Homo sapiens: one gene and its partners. The protein of the gene in region 1 purifies or fractionates together with the protein of each later gene. This does not show direct contact. Each region holds a gene or a part of one and is shown in the gene's direction. Other genes may lie near its edges.

Region 1 (5,961 bases):
TCTTCAAGAACAGTCTCTGTAACCTGGGCAGTAAGTAACATAGTGATAAAAAGCATAGCCCTGAAGTCAGACTACCTTTTACAGGCTGAGAGATCTTGGGTGGGTGACACTCCTCTCTGAGCCTCACCTTCCTTATCTGTAAAATGCTGATAATAATCGTACCCACCGTATGATGTGGTGAGAGGCTTAACTGAGATGTTCCATGTGAGGTGCTTAGCACAGCTCCCTGCCAGTATTATTAGTCTGAGTCTCTTGCCTCACTTCCTCTTGCTGTCATCTCATACTGTTTCCTCTTTGTGGGAACAGAAGCAGTTTCTTCAGCCTCAGACCTGAGTGATGAGGGTCTTGGCCAGCACCTAGACCCTCAGAGTAAGGACTCCTAAGGATCAAACTGCAGTGGGCACCTCTTGTACCCATCTGTGGTACCCATGGTCAAGTCCACTGCAGGACCAAGTTCTGACCACCAGAGGGCACTTGCCTACTGTGTTCATCCCAGAATTAGGCTGTAGAATTCTTGGGAAGCTACATCTTTCCAGAGGCTGAGACTATGTCACGGAACTGGCAAAGAAGGGCTCACCCAGATCCTTGAGGCACTTCAAGGATAGAGCAGGGGTCATTGCCCAGGTCTCACTTCCACAGGGCACCCCTGCTCTTCTAGCTGGCCTGTCACCCAGAAGAGCCACTGGTCACTCTGGGTTTTGTTCCAGAGGCAACTTCTTACATACTGGTGGGTAGACCTCCTTAGTGTAGGCTCTGAGGTTTGCTGGTGAACAATTCCATAGGAAGATCTGCCCGGAGAGGACAGGGCTTGGCTGGGCTTAGTCTTTAGGCCTAGGAGTGTCAGCTACTGAAGGAACTGAGGAGCCATGTCTGACCTGCAACTGGATGGTCTGCAGTTAGATAAGACACTGTAACTGCTGGTAAGCACTCCTGGCCTGTGCTCTTCCCTGTGCTCTGGGGAAGAAAGATAAGGAGAAAAGCTCCCTACAAACTTGATGTTGTCTCCCAAACCCCACCCCAGGGTATGAAACCCAGATACAGGGTTTCAGAGAGGGAGTACCTGGGTGTACCAGAGGCCAAACCTGTGGCCAGGTAGATGAGGTGCTAGTGGTGCTAGCTGTCATGAGAGATGCTGAGTGTGCCCCAGACGGGCCATGAGAGGAGCTGGCTGAGCAGGGAGATGGGGCTGTCTGGGGTATGGGCAGGTATTAGGATTTCGCTGATGAACAGAGAGAGCAGCAGGAAGGCAGTGGCACAGAAGTGTGGTTGGTAGGGCTGAGGATGGAATCCCAGAGGCTTTGTGGGTGAATGGAGGTGGAAAAGCCAGGCTGAAAGGCTGACACTCAGGGAGAGAGGGCAGGACAATCTGTGACCAACAGGGAGGGTCTTTGACAAGAGGGCACTTGGAGGTGCTGCATTGATGAGCATCTGGAATTAGCACCAGGAGAATAAAGAGCCAATGCTCCTGGACCATGGACAGAGGCTGGGAAAACCCCTTGGGAAAGTGGCCACATTGCACAAGGCCGGCCAAGGCTGACAGCAGTGAGTGGGGCCAGGTTTGTCAAAGCAGCCAGAGGGGGATGAAGTCCAAGTTGGCACGTGCCAGGCCCCACCAAGGGGGAGGCCAAGCTGAGCAGCATCGGTCATCAGCTCAGTACAGCTGCTTGAGGTAGGAGGTTGGGGCCAGTGATCCCAGAGGCAGACCAGGAAGCAAAGCCACAGGCAACATGGAGCTGGGGAGTGGGTCAGGGATCACCCTCTAGTGCTGGCATAGGCAGTAGTACAGACCGGGCTGGTGGAGGAAGGGGAGGAACTGGAGCTTGAGGCAATGGCAGTGGCCAGAGGGGTGGTCTTCAGCCTGGTCAGGGGGACTGTGATTCTGAAGCAGAATCACCCTGGCTCTGAGAAAGTTGGTCGTGGCCCGGAAGGACTCATGAGAAGAAGAGTAAACAGAGTGGACTTCTGACATCAAGGCTGAGCTTGTTTGGATGTTAAGGACCCTTTTGATGGTTGGCATCTAGAAAATTATGTCTTTAGAGATGCTGCAGCAGCTCCAAGAGAGTATCCTTGCAGGGCCCAGGGTGGTGCAGCCTCAGAGAGACGGGGTGAGGGTCATTCCGAATAGCTGACCTGAGAGTCTTTAAGAGAGTCACTTTACCAGCAGGAGTGAACACTGTGTGAGGAGTCAGGAGATACGGCTCACCCTCTTGACTCTACAGGCTGTCAGAAGGGGCCCGGAGTCCTGTCTACTCTGCCAGCCAGTCTCCTGAGTGGTGTGGGTATGCATGGGCTTCGGGAACAGTTTAGTCATCCTCGTTGGCCTGCCAGCCTCTGCCTCTGCTTTCCAGCCCTCACGCCCGATGTCGTGCACCAGTCCCTCTTCATGTCAGCCCTGTCGGCCCACCCTGACCGCTCACTCTCAGTGTGCTGGGAGCAGCACTGCAAGCTCCTGCCAGGAGTAGCGGGCATCTCAGCCTCGACAGTCGCCAAGTGGACCATCGATGAGGTGAGGAGCGAGGGCCCTTCTTTATCCTTCTCTTCCTCTCCTCCTCCCTCTCACCATACCCTGGTGGAAAGGCCCAGGTCAGGTAGAACCCGGTACCACTCCTGGCACTACCTCTTGCTCATCTGTCCTGTGCACAGTCCCTTCTAGCTGCCCAGTAGGGGCTGACTGAGACCCTTCCTGATAGGTCCATTATGGCAGAGGGGGCGGGGGCTGTGCTGCTGTTTCAGCCAGAAATCCAGCAGGAGAGGCAGGCTTCGGTCCCAGGCCTCAGAAGCAAGGGGCCCAACTTGGCACATCTGCCAGCATAGAAACCCTAGGATCCTTTTAGGCTGGTGAGAAAAAGCAGCATTGGCACAGCTCAGAAGCACCTAGGCTGTGGAGGCCAGCTCTCCCTACATGCCTAAGCTCTGTCCCCTGGTCAACATGTCATCTTTGGTTTCCAAGGTCTTCGGCTTTGTTCAGACCCTGACAGGTTGTGAGGACCAAGCACGCCTCTTCAAAGACGAGGTAAGGTGCAAGTGCAGAGTGGGAGACAGAGCCGGGGTCACTGTCCTTAAGACGGCAGGAAGCAGGTGCCCTCCCCAGCGTCACTTCTGCTAAGGAGGGACCCGTGTTGCCCCACCAGGCAAGAATAGTCAGAGTGACCCATGTATCTGGGAAGACTCTAGTCTGGACTGTGGCCCAGCTTGGGGACCTTGTGTGCTCAGATCATCTTCAGGAAGGAAAAGGCATCCTGGAGACAGGAGTCCATTCACTCCTCTGCTCTCTACCCACTCATTTGCTTGCCAAACTTAGCTTTGCCAGTGATAGTCAATATTAAAGTGTACTTTTTTCCCCTTTAATCCAATATAGTTGATAATTAAAGTGTATTTTGAATGACACAGATATTGTGATTTACTGCAAGGATCCTAACACACACTTAAAATCAAGAGCCAAGGAGTAGTGAGTTGTAGATAAAAAAAGAATGTCAGCTTTGGAGACAGTCTGGGTTTAAATCCCAGTTCTGTCAATTTGAGCTGTTTACTGTCTCTGAGCCTACATCTTCTTGTCTGTAAAATGGAGATAAAATGGGTTTAATGAGGTCTACCTTGCAGAGCCATTGTGAGCATTGGAAATGATGAATGAATCATACCAGAACGTCTAGTATAATTACAGTCATGCATTGCTTAACGATGGGGATACATTCTTAGAAATGTGTCACTAGGCAATTCTGTCATTGTGTAAACATTATAGAATGTACTTACACAAACCTAGATGTTATATGTATTTTTATTTACATGTATATTTTCACATGAAATACCAAATGTCACAGCATTATTACTGAATGTCAGTCATTTCCCCTACTTGATCTGCAATGCCAATATCAAGGGCCATGTATCAGGTTTCTGTATATGTTCCACTATAATCTTATGGGACCATGGTTTTAAATGTGGAATCATTGACAGAAATGTCTTTATGTAGCATATGGCTGTGTATCACTAGTATATAATAGAGCAATATTATGGAGGAATATGTAGATCCAATCACTTTACCTATACAAAATGACTGCTATGGTGGGAACACAATAAACACCAGTTTTGACTTTTAGTGCATAGTTGTCCTTAAGTAAAGAACTTTGTCGGCCGGGCACAGTGGCTCACGCCTGTAATCTCAGGACTTCGGGAGGCCACGGTGGGTGGATCACCTGAGGTCAGGAGTTCAAGACCAGCCTGGCCAACATGGTGAAACCCTGTCTCTACTAAAATTACAAAATTAACTGGGTGTGGTGGCATGCACCTGTAGTCCCAGCTACTCGGGAGGCTGAGGCAGGAGAATCACTTGAACTTGGAAGGAGGAGGTTGCAGTGAGCCGGGATTGCACCACTGCACTCCGGTCTGGGCAACAGAACGAAACTCTGTCTCAAAAAACATAAAAAGAAAGTAGTTGGCTCTTCTTGCCCTGGAAGAGTGTCTGTATCCAAGCCCAGCACAGCCAGTTTCCTCCTTTGAGCTGTGTGTGGTGGAGCTCCCAAACTCCTCCCACTTCCAGGTGCTTTCCTTGCCCTCTGTGTTGGTGATCTTCTCTTCATGTACGTGTCCAGAGCTGAACTCCCTGTTTTCGATGGCCTCTGGCCAACATAGAACACACCGGGGTGCTGCTCCCCTAGAAGTGTTTTAATTGAGATAAAATGCCTATAGAGAGATAGGCACACATCTTGAAAGTACAATTTCACAGGTTTTATGACATGTCTGCCCTTGAACTCAACATTTCAATCAAGGTACAGACATTTCCTCTCGTGTTAAGTCATACAAAAAAAATTTAACAAAAAAAAAAAAAAAAAAAGAAAAGAAAAAGATACAGACATTTCCCTCATACCAGAAAGTTCTTTCTCAGCCCCTTTTAGTCAGTCCGCACCCCAAAAGACAACCACTTTTCTAATTTCTAGCGTCATAGATGAGCTTTGCCTGTTCTGGAACTCATATAAATGGAATCATAGAGCATGTACTCTTCTAGGTCTGTCTCTGCACAGTGTCATGTTTTTGAGGCTTCTCCACGTTGTTATCTGTATCTGTAGTTTGTTTATTGCTGACTGGTGTTCCATTTCATGAGTATACCATAATTTCTTGTTAATGGTCAACATTAGGGTTATTTTCTCTTCCCCTAGATTTGAACCCTATTTTTTTGTTAGCAAAACTTAAGTTTGCCCTAGCTTTATTATAGCCACATCACACTAGTTTGGGGTTCATAAAAGCCCCCAGGTGGTTTTCATGTCAACTACAGTCGAACCAAATTTTCCAGTGAGTACTTGCACCACTGAGTTTTTTTTTTTTTAATAACCTCATGTAAAACTTTACATCCACCCTATTAAATGTTATCTGGTTGGTTTCATAGCCTTGTTTTAAATCTTGATTCTGTCATCTACGATGTTAATAAGGCTTTCCAACCTCATACAGCTTGCACATTTGATAACTAAGCCTTCTGTGTCTTTGTCCAAGTCTTAACATGTTTTATGAGAAGGCAGAACCACGTGGCACGCTGTTTCAAACCTTTCTGTCGGTTGACCACAGGTCTTCGAATGTAGTTGTTCAGCCAGCTGCAGAGCCACCCAAGTTTCATCCTCCAGCCTATGCTTGGCTTTACATTCTCTTCTTCTTGTGACAAGGGCTGTGTCTCCCAGGAACATTTGCTGTGTCTCTTGGTTCAGCATGGTCTGTGATATAAAAAACTAGTGGCCAAAGGGAGGTGTACTGGTAGACTGCCAGCATTAAATAGAATCTCAGAGTGGAGCAGGACCTTTATGGGGTCTGAGGATCACCATCTCCAGTGTCTGGCCCATGTCATCAGTTTCCCCATGTAGGACAATGCTCCAGGAGTGGGCTCTCTCTGGCTTAACTGATGATTGGGTATTCAGGGACACCAGTCAAGATGCTCTCCATCTGGGACACAGACCAGCCAGTAGAGGGTTGCTTCATGAG
Region 2 (3,500 bases), on another chromosome or scaffold:
AGTTAAATTTCTAATGGTTATTTTCTGGTTGATGTTGATGGCAAGGAAAACCTCATGGAAGAATGCAAGTCAAGGTGAGCTTTTCTAATCCTTTTGTCATAAGAGGCAGGACTTAATGTATTTTCCAGGGCCAGTGCCCCTGAAATGCTAGCCAGCAGTAAGCAGATAAGATGCTGTGCCTTACTATTTTTTAGTTATTTGCCTTAAGAAAGCTTATTTTATCTGAAACAAATCCTCTCAATTAATGATTAAAATATGAAACATCTTTTTTCCTACTTCACTGACAGAAGTAAAAATAAGGGACATTTTGCAAAGAAATGACTGCAAACCACTTGAAGTACAACATATTGTGACCCCTTAATCATCACAGTGTCAGACCCAGCCTGACTTTGTCTGTGTGGTGGAACATCCTTAAATGAGAATTCTCTTTCTACTCGGAGTTGATCAGTAAGAATCCAGCACCAATAAAAATCCTGCATCTCACCAGTATGCCTGGATTAAAATCTTACTCTTATAAGAGATAAGAGTTCTGAGTCTGAGACTGACAAATCTAGGTCCAAATCCTGGCTCAGCCAGTCATTAGCTGAGTGACCTTGGGTAAGTTTCTCAGCCTCTCTGGGTTTGCTTCCTCGTCTGTAGAATGGGGATAACTGCAGCCTCTTAGTGTCGTCTAAGAGCTTACTTACCATACTGTACACAGTAGGAGCCTACTGACCGTTAGTCCTTGTCATTGCTAGTAAAATTAAAGAGGCCATTCCTCTCCTGCTTGGAAAGCTCAGAAGAAGCTTCTGATGATGTTTTGCATTGACTAAAAGACAAATCGCACCCTCTTGGAATTAGTGTATCTGAGCAGACCTGGAGAATGTTAACGCCTTGGTAGGAAATGTAACAGTTTGGATAAAAATGTTCTTTCAGGCTCACATGAATTAATGCAGTAAGAACTCTAAACTTGTTTTCTTTTAAATTAGGATGAGTGCTTCATGAATATCCATCACAGAATGCCATTTTATTTATTTTTTTTTTCTTGCATTGGGTTTCAGTAGCACCAGAATGTTTCACACAGCCCTGGTGTTATTTGACTGCTGCTTTCTAAAAGATTAGATTGTAGCTCATGACAGCTCAATTTTGGTTTTAATCTAGACCCAGGCAGAAATACCTAGAAAAGTTATTTTTATATAATTGTTACTTCTGTTACCATGCCTTTTGTCTGCGGTGCTTCAGTCTGTGGTCTTTTTAATGACTTTGTATGAAAATGAAAATTAGGGATCTTCAGGTTTCCAGTGCCTGCCAGAGAAAGCCTCGTTTGAGCTGTGTCTCAGGTATCAGCAAATGACTGAAGCCAGCAGGTGCAAATCTGGGTTTGGAATCATGAGCATCTTGATTGAGAATAATGGGTACCTCCTGGTGCCTTAAACAACTTCCAAATTTGTAACTTTCCTTTCTTTTCTTGGAAGTGTAACTGGATATTTTTAAACAAAGTGTAGCATCTTGTGGAGCAAATTAGACTGTTTATGGGTTAGGTTGGAATAAGCCACCGTGCTAGATTTTGCTGTGGGCAGAGACGATCCCGCATCTCTGGGGTCTCCAGAAGGAAAAGTTCAGAGCTGAGGGTGCGGCTGTAGTGGCAGTCCATGGATCTTGAGCCACCAGCTTGTTTTAGTTGACATGTACTGAGAGCCTCTCTGCCCCAGACACACTGCTGGGCTCTGGGCACGCAGTCCCTGCCCTCAGAGAGCTCACCGCCAGGAGTGGAAGCTCAGCAGTGAGGAGTCTCACAGAATCAGCACATTTCTAATTGTTCAGCTTTTACATTTTTACTTTTGTTCTGGTTGTTGATATGTGGAGACAGTTCCAAGGCTTTATCCAAGAAAGTTGTAGAGGAGATTTTAAGGCCCAGGTGGGTGTTTTGCCCAGATGGCATCTGAGAGTCCCTTCTTATTTTTAGGTTCTCTGCAGAATGGGTCAGCAGTGTGAGAGGATGTCATTAGTTTTCCATTGTTGCATTTCCTCACAGCTTAACAGAATACGTGGTGCAGAATTTTACTTAAAGATACTAGCCAATGGGGCCGGGCGCAGTAGCTCATTCCTGTAATCCCAGCACTTTGGGAGGCTGAGGCAGGCGGATCCCTTGAGGCCAGGAGTTCGAGACCAGACTGGTCAACATGGTAAAACCCTGTCTCTACTAAAAACACAAAAATTAGCTGAATGTGGTGGCACATGCCTGTAATCCCAGCTACTCAGGAGGCTGAGGCATGAGAATCACTTGAACCTGGGTGGCGGAGGTTACAGTGAGCCGAGATTGCACCACTGCACTCCAGCCTGGGCACAGAGCAAGACTCTGTCTCAAAACAAAACAAAAACAAAACTAGTCAGTGGAAAGGCTTGAGGAGAGGGCTAGGTGAGGATGTTACCCCCTTCATCAGGTGCTGTGTTTCCATTCCTCTTTTCTAGGAGCAAACACCCTTTCTATTCTCAGCCTTCTCTCTTTTTTTTTTCCCTCCCCGAGTAACCTCATTTTACCAAAACGATCCTCAGTCAGTACACAGTCACTCCCAAATCAGTATCTTCGGGTCTAATATTTCTCTCTAGCTCCAGCCCCATATTTCCCACGACCCCGTGAAAAACCTGAGCCCAGCTTGTCCTGGCTGAGCTACGTGGCCTCCGAGTAGACACCATGCCTCAGTCTCCAGGTGCTGCCGCCAGAATTCTGTTTGAGTTCTCTGAGTATTCAAGGCCCTCCACCTTCTGACTGTGGCCTTCTCCTTCCATGGCCTTCCTTGTCCCTGAGCTGGGGCCACTGCATGCTGCCTGCTCTACCCCAGACGCTGTTTGCATTCCCCTGTGCCCTGTTCCTGCTTTTCCTTCTGTCTGGAGTGTTCTTTTTTTTCCCTTTGAAATGCAAGGCCTTGTTCAAAAATATCTTCCTCCATGAAGTTTTCTTTTGTTCTATTTTGATTTTTTAAAAATCTTTTTGGTCAAAAGTAATCAGCCTTGTATTGTTCCTTGTAGTTCTTCGTTTCTGCCTTTATAACTGTCTGCTTGATGTAATAATTATCCATTTGCAGCCCATCTTTCTACTCTAGATTCCTTGGTTTAAAAAATTATATATTTGTAGGTACTAACCTACATGGCTTAAAAAAAAATTTTAGTGAGAATAATAGTTATGTGATTTTTTAAATGCAAAGGTATAAAATAAAGTCTGTTTCCCTTCCCTCTCCTTAGTCCTTCCCCACAGTGACCACCATTAATAGTACCACGTGGTTCCTTCCAAAATGGATACAGCAAGCAACGTAATATAATTCCTTTACAAAACGTACATGAAGGGAATGACATATATGCATACATATTAGTCTACATCTTGCTGTTTTTGGCTAAATCTTAGCACTCCTTCCATATCAAAGCATACAGATCTACCCACTCTTCTTAATAGCTGCGTAGTATTTCATTGTTGATTATATTTTTTGAAACCAGTTTCCTTTGGGGGTTCCTTTTTTTTTTTT
Region 3 (3,500 bases), on another chromosome or scaffold:
GCGGTGGCTCACGCCTATAATCCCTGCACTTTGGGAGGCTGAGGGTGGCAGATCACGAGGTCAAGAGATCGAGACCATCCTGGCCAACATGGTGAAACCTCGTCTCCACTAAAAATACAAAAATTAGCTGGGCGTGGTGGCGTGTGCCTGTAATCCCAGCTACTTGGGAGGCTGAGGTAGGAGAATCACTTGAACCCAGGAGGTGGAGGGTGCAGTGAGCCGAGATTGCGCCACTGCACTCCAGCCTGGCAACAGAGCGAGACTCTGTCTCAAAAAAAAAAAAGAAAAAGAAAAAAAGAAAAATAAGTTTTTGTTAATGGTTGGGATTTTCTTACTGGCCTCGTGGCAAGTTTTGTTATCTCTTATTATATATATTCTACCTTTTTATGGGAAAAACTACTCTTTTTGGTGTAAAGATATTTTTTATATTTTCTTTGCTTGTAAAGAGTTATTATCAATTTGTAAGTATAAAAACTGCAAGTATAGTTGGTAGTTGATAAGAAAGGTAGATAATAAAACTTAAAAGGGATGGACACAGATTGAAAAAGGCCTTGAGTGCCAAGACAAGAGCTCTGAACTTTAACAGGCACTGGAAACCGTCATAGGTCTTAGGTAGGAATATGCTGTGCTCCCACCATCTTAATTAGGTCTTATGGAGGTTTGATAGCAAGAGGGTAGGAATATCATTTAGCAGGCTACTGCAAGTATCCAGGTGAAATGTACAGAGGTTTTGAACTAGGCTGCTGGGGAGGGTGCAGAGAAGAAATATTTTGGAAATAAAATGGACAGAAAGTGTATAAATGGATAAAGAGAGGAATAGAACTGACACCAGGCTTCAAGCCTGATGCCTGAGAATAAAGGTGTAATTATGAAGGGAATCCAGGAAGACATGGAAAGAGTGGTTGGAGTAAGGTTAAAGTGATAGTTTTAGATTGGGTTATTTTGACGTTGAAGTGTTGACCAACTTCTTAAGTGAAAATGTGCAACAGTCATTGAAAATATGAGTTTGTGGGGGGAGGGGGGAGGGATAGCATTAGGAGATATACCTAATGTAAATGACGAGCTAATGAGTGCAGCACACCAACATGGCACATGTATACATATGTAACAAACCTGCACGTTGTGCACATGTACCCTAGAATAATAAAAAAAAAGAAAAGAAAAAGAAAATATGAGTTTGGCGCTAGGAAGAAGAGTTATCAGGACTAGAGCAAGAGATTAGAGATGTTGTCACAGAGCCTGGGACAGGAAATGGAAGAGTCAGGGGAGAGAAGGGGAGAAATCACTGCTATCACCACCACCAGCAGCAGCAGCACCAGCCCCAGGAAAGAGAGAAGAAATGCCAGGAGATGGGGGCAGGTGGAGAAGGAAGAAGAGGGAGACAGTAGTGAGAGTATAGAGGACATGCGTGGAGAGTTTCCAGAAGAAGACTTGTCTACTTGTGGAAAGCTGAGAAGTTAAGAGAGAGAGGCTTAAAACCATGTCATGAGATTTGGCAGTTGGTTGGGAGAAGACTGGCGAAGTTTAGAGTATAATTTCATTAAAGTAGTGGGGACAGGAGCCAGAATTCAGGAGTTAAAGAGTGATTAGCTGTTGAGGATGCAGAAGTAAGTACATGACACTTTCCAAAATTTGGTGTTGAAAGGGAGGCCAAAGTGGGTGGACAGTTTGGAAGTGATAGGGGGTCAATTTGAGATCACAGGATTTGGGAAGTTCACAGCATGAACTGGTGATGATACCAATCATTGTGGTTTGGTAACGGTCTTCAGCGGTGCTGGAACTTCAGGACTGGGAGCAAGGAAGAAACACAGTGGGACTGTTTGAGGTTTGGTGCTGACATTTTCGGTATGGCAGGAGGCCAAGAGAGGTAAAAATCTCTTGTTCCCTTGACTCTTAGCTAATTTATACATTCTAATATTGACAGAGTCTGTTAACATCACTTGAAAATGAGTTTGGAGGTCCTGAGAGACTCTCACATGTTCCAGACATCACTCTTCCACTTTCTCTCGTGATTCAAAGTACTCGGGCAATATTTGTGTGTCCATAGTTGTCTGGACTGGGGTTATGAAAGGCTCTGGTCCTTTTGAGAAAGTCTGTTGCATACTACTGCAAAATAAAAATTGGAAGGATCTATCTTTTGGCTCTGTATTTTGCAGTTCTCTGTCTCTGTGTGTGTGTGTGTGTTGTGTGTGTGTGTTCGTTCATCTGTCCTTCATGTGCATGAATAGGCATTTCATGGCTAGCCAACATTTTATTGCCTGGTTATGTATACAGCTCCTTTGGCTAAGGATAAAATTGAAAGCATGGTTGTATTACTTTGGATTTTAGAAGCAAATACAGTATACATTTTATCCAAGTAGCATGAAGCATGAGAGAAGACTCACAATGAGGCAAAACAAAGACAGACCATATTGGCGAGAGTGTATACTTTGCCAAGGACCTAGACTCCTGGAGGTCTGTCTTCTCCCATATAATCCTTTTTGTCTATTTTTATGGATTAATGATTTTTCTTTGGCGTTGCCATCTTTCAAGTGCCAAGTTATAAAAGGTCTAATTGAAGCATGAAACACATTTTATTATTTTCCTCCTGCCATTAAATTTGTAAGATGGCTACACCTAGAAAGAAACATTCACTTTCAATCAACATGAGCTTGAGTTCATGGGCCAGCCTTGAGGATATCAAATGGAAACTGCGTAGGAATGTATGAGTATTTCCTTTTAAAATTCTGCTTTTAATTTAGGAAAGCTTTTCATCCCTCTGGGATCATAACCTGTTGTGTATAAAGCCCAACCTAATCAAGGTAGATGGTACTGACAGAATGACATAGTTTGAACTTAAGCAGGAGGTCAGCAGGCAGATTGTTTTTTGCTGTATGTACTGTAGTCACTAACAGCCGGACTGGGCAGCTGGTTTTACCAGCAGCATTGTTAAATGGAAAATATGGTATATTATGCCCCATGAAACCAACCATAGATTTTCCAAACGTTTAGACTTTTTTGAGTGGAGTCAGATGTTTATGGATGATATAATGACTTGCCAGCTATAATAAACAAAAATAAACATTGTAGCATATCCTCAGTCTATTGAATATTTTCCAGAAATAGTTCATGATCTCTATTATTCATATATTATCAAATTCAATAAAAAGCATTTTAATACATTTTGTCACCTTATATTTTGTGTTCCTGGATTTGTGCTTCATGGTTATACCAAGAGCAAATCGTGTGTGTTCATTTTGTCACCTTATATTTTGTGTTCCTGGATTTGTGCTTCATGGTTATACCAAGAACAAATCGTGTATGTGTGTGTGTGTGTGTGTGTGTGTATAAAATAAAATAATATGTAAACATTTACAAATAAACCTGGAACTGTTAGAAAAGAAAACCCTGCCCAGTTTTTCATGTTTAAGATTTCCAGATGAAAAACTTAAATTCATAATAAATAACATTTCAAATGTCAGTTCTCCAAAGAGAAACTATTAATTACCCTGTTATGGCTG
Region 4 (2,360 bases), on another chromosome or scaffold:
AAACCTTTCAAATGTGAGGAATGTGACAGCATCTTCAAGTGGTTCTCAGACCTTACTAAACATAAGAGAATTCACACTGGTGAGAAACCATACAAATGTGACGAATGTGGGAAAGCCTATACACAGTCCTCACACCTCAGTGAACACAGGAGGATTCACACCGGAGAGAAACCCTACCAATGTGAAGAATGTGGGAAGGTCTTCAGAACTTGCTCAAGCCTTTCTAACCATAAGAGAACTCATTCTGAAGAAAAACCCTACACGTGTGAAGAATGTGGCAACATCTTTAAGCAGTTATCAGACCTCACTAAGCATAAGAAAACCCATACTGGAGAGAAGCCCTACAAATGTGACGAATGTGGAAAAAACTTTACCCAGTCCTCCAACCTTATTGTACATAAGAGAATTCATACTGGAGAGAAACCCTACAAGTGTGAAGAATGTGGCAGAGTCTTCATGTGGTTCTCAGACATTACCAAACATAAGAAAACCCATACTGGAGAGAAACCCTACAAATGTGACGAATGTGGAAAAAACTTTACCCAGTCCTCAAACCTTATTGTACATAAGAGAATTCATACTGGAGAGAAACCCTACAAGTGTGAAAAGTGTGGCAAAGCCTTCACCCAGTTCTCACACCTGACTGTACATGAAAGCATTCATACTTGAGAAAAAAATAAACAAATATAAAAATAGGCAAAGCCGTTAGTATCTGCTCGCATCCCACTTTACATCAGAGTTCAGACTTAATAAAGTTATCATAAATGTAATTACTATTGAAAGACCTTTCATGAAATATAAGTCTCCAGAGCACACAAGAGTATTTCTTCTGAAAAAAATGTTACAATTATACTAGATGGAAGACTTGCATCAGTTGCTTAAACTTTCAGAAAATTTGTAGAGAAACCCAACAAATCTCATAAATGTGGAATAACATTTGTTCAAAAATGATAGCTTAGAAAACACTAGAGTTCATACTAAAAGATATTTTGCAAATACACTAAATGGGAAAAATAAGCAAGGACACGTTCAGAAATGACACTGAATCCCTGTGTTGAGTCTACAGAGACATCTAGACTTAAAATAGATCATTTATATTTAAGTTTAAAAGGAGGATGAGACTGAGTTTTTGTAGAGTTATAATTACATTCAAAATATACTTTTTTGCATTGAAAAAATGTTAAATTTTTGAAAAGCGAATATTGATGTCATTCTATTCTCAAATCAGTAGATGCTGTGTCTTCATTTCTAGTGCTGATGTGAAAACACATGGTCAGTTGTTGCTGCGTCAGAGATATGAGAAATTCTTTTCTCTTAGGTGTGCATCACTGATATACTTGTCCGTGAAAGGTGAAAGACACTGAAATGTAAGATGCGTGAGTAAAATCTTGGTAGAGAGGCTCTTTGTGGTTGTTTTATATACTTGTAAGTGATTTATGAGATAGGTGTTTAGAATAATACTCTTCTGTTAGGGTCACCCTGATCAGACCGTTCCCTTCCCCTCCCACAGGACTTACAATACGGTCCCTTGTGCTCTCTGCACAGCTACCCCAGGGCAAAAAACAAACCCCCCTTCACTGATCCCTCCAGTAACTGTGCAGACAGTTACAGGATGCGGTTAACATGTCTGTTCACCTCGCATAACAAAGCTGGCAAAAAACATCTCCAGGATGCAGACAAGACACCTGCACCCTCGACTAAGCTCCCCCACCCCAACCCAGTTCTCCTGCACCCCCAACTCAGCTCCCGCACCCCGACCTAGTTCTGGCCCTATAAAAACCTGCTATAGTCTGTAAGCAGGGCTGCCTCCTCTAACTGTGGTGGAGCAGCCAAGCAGCTCAATAAAGCTTGCTTGCCTGACTTTGGGTCTCTTCATCCTTTCTCTTGGCTGACCTTACATTTCTGGTGCCGAAACCCGGAAAGGTGATAGAGTTCGGCCTCCCTTTCTCCCTTTCTCTTTCTCTCCCTCCTTCCCCTGGCTGAACTCCCCCTTCCAGAACCTGCTAGAGACCCAAGGATCTCATACATACTTTCCATTGCTGGCGAACACATCCAACACCAGGGCCTCCTCAGGGTTGAGTAAAGGAGACTTTCGCCTTGTGTCTGGAACCCTTGTCTGCTCTTTCCTTCCTAAAAGACCCAGCACTGGGCCAAGGGTTTCCTCCTCCTGGCCTCCAGGAGGCCCTCGATATCTCCTATCAAGGATGCCTGAACTGGGGATTATCGCACTTCTCCGACTTGAACTGTGGGACAAGGGACGCGTTCTCCCACCATTCTAGTCTCCGGCCAAGTCTCCCATCTCTACCCCTCCCTTTCTCATTCCACTATGGGAGCCTTCCAATCCCCTCCCTCAAAGACAT

The links.
Region 2: the proteins of L3MBTL1 (region 1) and ZBTB34 purify together in Homo sapiens (affinity purification with mass spectrometry; one large-scale study listed by BioGRID and IntAct). This does not show direct contact.
Region 3: the proteins of L3MBTL1 (region 1) and SATB2 purify together in Homo sapiens (affinity purification with mass spectrometry; 2 studies listed by BioGRID and IntAct, with this or other methods). This does not show direct contact.
Region 4: the proteins of L3MBTL1 (region 1) and ZNF195 purify together in Homo sapiens (affinity purification with mass spectrometry; 2 studies listed by BioGRID and IntAct, with this or other methods). This does not show direct contact.

The regions. Positions count from the first base shown.
Region 1 is NC_000020.11:43,537,803-43,543,763, forward strand, and holds the end of L3MBTL1 (lethal(3)malignant brain tumor-like protein 1), read left to right. Parts: intron 1-2,219; exon of another isoform or gene 2,220-2,348; coding exon 2,349-2,506; intron 2,507-2,950; coding exon 2,951-3,013; coding exon of another isoform or gene 3,014-3,106; exon of another isoform or gene 3,107-3,131; coding exon 3,132-3,326; 3' UTR 3,327-4,093; downstream 4,094-5,961. UniProt on the Homo sapiens protein: Polycomb group (PcG) protein that specifically recognizes and binds mono- and dimethyllysine residues on target proteins, thereby acting as a 'reader' of a network of post-translational modifications.
Region 2 is NC_000009.12:126,863,639-126,867,138, forward strand, and holds part of ZBTB34 (zinc finger and BTB domain-containing protein 34), read left to right. Parts: exon of another isoform or gene 1-54; coding exon of another isoform or gene 55-74; intron 75-3,500. UniProt on the Homo sapiens protein: May be a transcriptional repressor.
Region 3 is NC_000002.12:199,342,940-199,346,439, reverse strand, and holds part of SATB2 (DNA-binding protein SATB2), read left to right. Parts: intron 1-3,500. UniProt on the Homo sapiens protein: Binds to DNA, at nuclear matrix- or scaffold-associated regions. Thought to recognize the sugar-phosphate structure of double-stranded DNA.
Region 4 is NC_000011.10:3,357,427-3,359,786, reverse strand, and holds the end of ZNF195 (zinc finger protein 195), read left to right. Parts: coding exon 1-669; 3' UTR 670-1,860; downstream 1,861-2,360. UniProt on the Homo sapiens protein: May be involved in transcriptional regulation.